Regions from separate parts of the Homo sapiens genome. Here region 2 is linked to region 1. The links come from fine-mapping of genetic effects on gene expression. A gene starts in region 1. The other region holds a variant in brackets. All regions are shown on one strand. Distances are from middle to middle. Region 1 holds the start of PTK7 (protein tyrosine kinase 7 (inactive)). Region 2 overlaps PTK7 (protein tyrosine kinase 7 (inactive)).

Region 1 (2,902 bases):
GTGTTGGGGCCCTTCACAGAAGGTGAGGGGCAGTGATGGATGGAGCAGCAGGAGGAGTGTTGATTCTTGGATCTCTCCTCTCTTCCTCCCGTTGTTTGTATCATCTCCAGCAGGGCCTGTAGGAAGGCATCTGGGGGATGGGGAAGAAGGAGGCTCACAACCCAAGGAGAAGGTGCTGTGGACTGGGTTGTCAGGGACATGTGGTGGCCATGTGGCAGGACCCTGGAGTCCTGGCGCCACTTCTCCTGGCTGTGAGGCCCTCTGTGGCTGCCATTCCTCCTCCCAGCTGCTTGGGGGAAGGGAGGTCTAAACAGGCCTGGGGGGCCCTCCGGAACCAGAGGGGAGACAAGGCACTATCCATCCCCTCTCAGCATATCTTGGAGGCCTGAGCAGCAGCTGGGGCCCATCTTCTAAAGCTTGACTCCTCCTGACCCGCCTCCTACACCCCTTGCTGCTTTCACAACAAAGAAAGAATGTGGGGGTGGTGGCGCTGGGGGTGGGGGTGCCTGGAACAAGGGTTGTGCTGGGCCTCCCCACAGCTGGAGACTTGGCCATACCCTGACACAGCCCAGACTGCCTGGAGATGGACTTGGGATGAATTTGTCAGTTAGCAGACTTCAGCCTGGCTTTCAGAGCCCAGCGTGTTTCTACCTTTGGGTTCAGATTGGTCTACAGCCAAACCAGACCCCAGTCATGCACACTTCAGCCCCTCTCCGGGCTACACAGCATCTTCAGGTTACTTGGGGACATTAAGGACACCCTGCTGTTCTGGGTCTGCCGTTAAGATTTTGGGTTGCTGAAGAGTTGGCGGGGCCCGCCTCTTCCCCTGCCCCCACCTGGAGAATTCTGGGGGAACTGTTGGCCAGAGCCTCCAGGTATGCCCAGAATGGACCATTCTCCCCAGGGTCCACGGAATCGCACAAGTCACTTAGGTTCTCCCGGATCCCTGCAGAGTCGGTGGTGGGTACAGCAAATACTCAGGTCCCCTGCACTTCCCTGAGCCTTGCTCTCTCTATTCTCCATCCCTCTCCAGACCCCTCCCCCTACTGAGCTCCTCCCCGCCTCGGCGAGGAGGGGGCGTCGAGGGGGCGGGGCGCCGTGCGGGGGCCGGAGGGGAGGGGGCGTCGTGGGGCGGGGCTTGGCGGCGGCGGCGGCGGCGCGCGGGGACTCGGAGGTACTGGGCGCGCGCGGCTCCGGCTCGGGACGCCTCGGGACGCCTCGGGGTCGGGCTCCGGCTGCGGCTGCTGCTGCGGCGCCCGCGCTCCGGTGCGCTCCGCCTCCTGTGCCCGCCGCGGAGCGCAGTCTGCGCGCCCGCCGTGCGCCCTCAGCTCCTTTTCCTGAGCCCGCCGCGATGGGAGCTGCGCGGGGATCCCCGGCCAGACCCCGCCGGTTGCCTCTGCTCAGCGTCCTGCTGCTGCCGCTGCTGGGCGGTGAGTACCCGAGAGTTGGGGGCACAGAGCTTGGGAAGCGCGGGAGTCCCGTGGGCAAAAGGCTGCGCCCGGGGCGGTGGGTTTGGGCGGCTGGAACGGCCCTGGAGTAGTGGAGAGGCTCGCTGGGGGTGCAGGCTTGCGGCGGAAGGGCGCAAGGAGCCCGGGTGTCGGGAGGCTGGCGAAGCCTCCAGGGACGCGGTCAGGGTACCCCTCCCACTCGCGCCGCGGGGACGCATTTCCAGCCTCCCTGAGTTTTTCTGGTCTGAGCCGAGAGTTTGCTCGAGAACTGCCGAGAGTTGCTGGCTCTCGGGCCCAGATGGGGAGTTTCTTGTCGGGGGAGAAAAGACCATCCGCACCCACCGTGGGGAGCGCGATGGAGAAAAAGGAATTCCCCACCCCACCCGGCAGGGTCGGCCCAGGTAAGAGTTGCTGGTTTGGGGCCCGATGCCGGACAGACCTGCGGCGCGCAAAGCGCGGAGCTTTGTTACCTACGCCGACCCGACGTTCCCGGCTTCCCTCCTCCGAGTTCCTGGGCAAAGCTGAGACCCCAGATGGCCCTGCGGGTGAGGGCGGAAGAAGGGAAGAGTTAGGGGCCGCCCCCATCCATGGCCTCTAGCTACTGGTCTGGAACCCTGCGCCCACTCCGTGCCAGGGCCGAATCCGGGGATCCGAGGGTCCCAGGCTGTCGCGGTGACTAATGTGTGAAGGCCGCTGCCAAAATCGGGCATGGCCTGGCTGCAAAGGTGCGGACGGGGTTTGTTCTGCTCCTTCCTGGATTTCCATCCTGACTGTCCTCACAGAGGAAAGGAAGTATTTCTAAGGGAAGAAAGGCAAAAAGAGCTCATTCTGGCTTTTCTTGGGGGGGGGCCTTAGCATTTTAACGAGGGTGTGGCCCTCATCACCAGGGCAGACAGCACCGCCCCCCCAACTCCCGCAGCTTTTATTTCCTGGCTTGGTCACACCTAAGAGTCATCACTGAGGTGTTGAAGTGCCTTACAGGAAAGCACCAAGCCACCCGCACATCCCAAATAGCCCGGACTGGAAATAAAGCCCCCGACCCTCCACAACACTCCTTGGTGGTCCTCGAAGCAGCTTTCTCTTGGGGAGCTCTGTCGAGGAGACCTGTCCTAGGTGATCACCTTCCATCTCCTTTGAAGGTGGCAATGGGAAGGGCATGGGTAAGGAATTGCCTTTCTAATATCTTTCTGGCCTGCCAGCTGTGGAGGGGTTTTGGTGCTGGTGGAATCAACATCTCCCCTGCCCCCAGTTGTAAAAGGAGAGGTAAATGTAACCCAGGAAAGAGACCAATCTCCAGGGATTTGGAGGAGGTGTTTCTGGAGTTGCCCCGTTTTTCTTGTGATGTGTGTGGTGGTTATTGCTCGTGGCAGAATCCACATCTGCTCCCAGAGGAAGTATGGAAGTTTTTTTGCACAGCCAGGATGGGGGCCCAGCCATCTGGGCGAGCAGCCCAA
Region 2 (2,902 bases), 64 kb after region 1:
AAATGTGGAGATTAGACAAGCAGTGCAGGGCTGATGTATAGTTTAGTTAGGAAGGAAAAAGCCAGACACAGAAGAGGTCAGATTATAGCCTTGGACAACATGGAAGACAACTCAAGGCAACAAGTGATTGGATTGGTTCAGACAGTGCTGTAAAGTCCTCTCTTCCCCTTTTCCAAAATAGTTTATCTTTTCCAACATAAAAATTACATGGAGGCCGTGCATAGTGGCTCACGCCTGTAATCCCAACACTTTGGGAAGCCGAGATGGGTGGGTCACTTGAGGCCAGGAGTTTGAGACCAGCCTGGCCAACATGGTGAAACCCCATCTCTACTAAAAATGCAAAAGTTAGCCAGGCGTGGTGGCACATGCTTGCAATCCCAGCTGCTTAGGAGGCTGAAGCAGGAGAATCGCTTGAACCCAGGAGGTGGAGGCTGCAGTGGGCCGAGATCATGCCATTGCACCAGAGTCTGGCTGACAGAGTGAGACTCTGACTCAAAAGAAAAAAGAAACAAAAGTTACATGGGCTCCTTTACAAAATACTGGAAGAGGCCGGGCGTGGTGGCTCACGCCTGTAATCCCAGCACTGTGGGAAGCTGAGGTGGGTGGATCACGAGGTCATGAGATAGAGACCATCCTGGCTAACATAGAGTAGTGAAACCTCGTCTCTACTGAAAATACAAAAAATTAGCCAGGGGTGGCGGCACGCATCTGTAGTGCCAGCTACTCGGGAGGCTGAGGTAGGAGAATTGTTTGAACCCAGGAGGCGGAGGTGGCAGTGAGCCGAGATTGTGCCACTGCACTTCAGCCTGGGTGGCAGAGCGAGACTCCATCTCAAAAAAAAAAAAAAAAATATTGGGAGAAAAAATGTACAGTCCTGCCGTTTATCATCTTTGGGTGTATGTCTTCTTTTTCTGTGCATATGTTTTTCTTTTTTTACCTAGCAGTTTTATTGTATATATAGTTTCAGTTATTAAATTTACATGATTGGCTGAGTGTGGTAGCTCATGCCTGTAATCCCAGCACTTTGGGAGGCCGAGGTGGGAGGATCGCTTGAGCCCAGGAGTTCAAGACCAACCTGGGCAATACAGGGAGACCCTGTCTGTACAAAAAATTTAAAAATTAGCCAGGCATGGTGGTGCATGCCTGTAGACATGCTTATTGTAGAATTAGACAATACAGATAACTATGTAGTTTTTAAAAATATTTTTTAAAATTATTTATTTTTATTTTTTTTGTAACGGTGTAATTTTATACCCTTTTTTACTTACCATTGTCAAGCATTTCCCCACATCTTTATACACTCTTCATGAATATTTGTTTTGATGATCCTAATAATATTTCAACAATTGGATTCACTGTAATTTACTTAACTGTTCCTTAAATGTTGGAGATTTGGGTTGTTAACCAGCCACCCACCCACCCCCTTTTTTTTCATTGCTGCAATAAACATCTTTAAGCCAAAGTTTTTTTCTGGATTTAGGTTTATTTCCTTTGGGAAAGATTCCCAGAATTGGGATAATTATGCACGAAAGGGGGTATGAACATTTTTATAGCCCTTGATGTGAGTTGCCAAATTATTTTTTAAA[A/T]GGTTGGACCAATTTTGACATTTCCACCTAGAGTGAGAGAGTACAGTTGTAGATTCTGAGGAGGAAGTAGGCTCCCTCTGCTCAGGTCTGGGGGAACTTTCTGGGAGAGGTGAGGCTTAAAATGGATCTACAGCCTGGGATGGTAAAGAGCGGGAATGGGCTCTAGGAGGGAGAAGTGATGGGCAGCGGAGTAGGAACAGGGCCGATCTGGGCCCAAACAGAGTCCGGTTTGGCAGACGTGGAATGTCACACAGGGCAGTAGGAGGAAGAGGTGAGACTGAAGAATTGGAAGAGGGGTAAATAACGGAGGGGCTTCTAACACTTGGCTCAGGAGTTTGGACTTTGCCTGTGGGTGGTCAGGAGCGATGGTGTGTTTTTGAGTAGAGGTGAGGGACTGAAGGCATTGCCAGCTGTCTGTGTAACCCTGATCCTTCCCATAATTTCCCTTTGTTACCCCTGCAGATGGGAGCAGCCTCCCAGAGTGGGTGACAGACAACGCTGGGACCCTGCATTTTGCCCGGGTGACTCGAGATGACGCTGGCAACTACACTTGCATTGCCTCCAACGGGCCGCAGGGCCAGATTCGTGCCCATGTCCAGCTCACTGTGGCAGGTGCGACCGTGGCAGGGCCCTGGGGCTGGGAGGGCCCTCTGGGGTAGCACCGTGTACCCTGCCAGCCCCTTGGCTTACCCCTCCCTGCGCCTCGCTGGTCTCTTTTCTTCCAGTTTTTATCACCTTCAAAGTGGAACCAGAGCGTACGACTGTGTACCAGGGCCACACAGCCCTACTGCAGTGCGAGGCCCAGGGGGACCCCAAGCCGCTGATTCAGTGGAAAGGCAAGGACCGCATCCTGGACCCCACCAAGCTGGGACCCAGGTAGGGCCACCTCTCTCCCACACCCGTCCCTCCTCTCCTGCAGCCCCCCTCCCTGCGAGCTGGCCAGCACTATGGCTTCTCCCCCGACAGGATGCACATCTTCCAGAATGGCTCCCTGGTGATCCATGACGTGGCCCCTGAGGACTCAGGCCGCTACACCTGCATTGCAGGCAACAGCTGCAACATCAAGCACACGGAGGCCCCCCTCTATGTCGTGGGTATGGGCTGGGGAGGGTTATGCTGCACAGGAAGTGGTGGGCCCAGACGTTTGTCACCTTGTACTCAGCCCCTGTGTACAGAACATGGCACAGAAGCCATTTTTGTGGCAGCGGTGGGGATTCGGCCGTCTCACCATGCTGCTGCACAGTCTTAGAGTCCTTGCTCAGAGCCGGGCTGTCGTTTATTTAACATCCAACGGTCGGTGTGTGTGTGTGTGTGTT

The links. PIP is the estimated chance that this variant, and not a neighbour inherited with it, causes the effect.
Region 2: its variant is fine-mapped to the expression of PTK7 in whole blood (TOPMed, PIP 0.95).

What each region holds. Positions count from the first base shown.
Region 1 is chr6:43,075,138-43,078,039 of GRCh38, forward strand. It overlaps PTK7 (protein tyrosine kinase 7 (inactive)), which reads left to right and starts at 1,177. Exons shown (of 20, transcript NM_002821.5): 1 at 1,177-1,430. The coding sequence starts at 1,352. KLC4-AS1 (KLC4 antisense RNA 1) reads right to left here and starts at 1,093. Exons shown (of 2, transcript XR_002956347.1): 1 at 558-1,093; 2 at 1-130. RefSeq lists an enhancer at 312-835 and a silencer at 1,165-1,264.
Region 2 is chr6:43,139,620-43,142,521 of GRCh38, forward strand. It overlaps PTK7 (protein tyrosine kinase 7 (inactive)), which reads left to right. Exons shown (of 20, transcript NM_002821.5): 11 at 2,049-2,198; 12 at 2,312-2,462; 13 at 2,553-2,680. Among named protein-coding and RNA genes, the nearest start is that of SRF, 30 kb to the right of the region's middle. The variant A/T (reference allele first, on the strand shown) is at 1,587.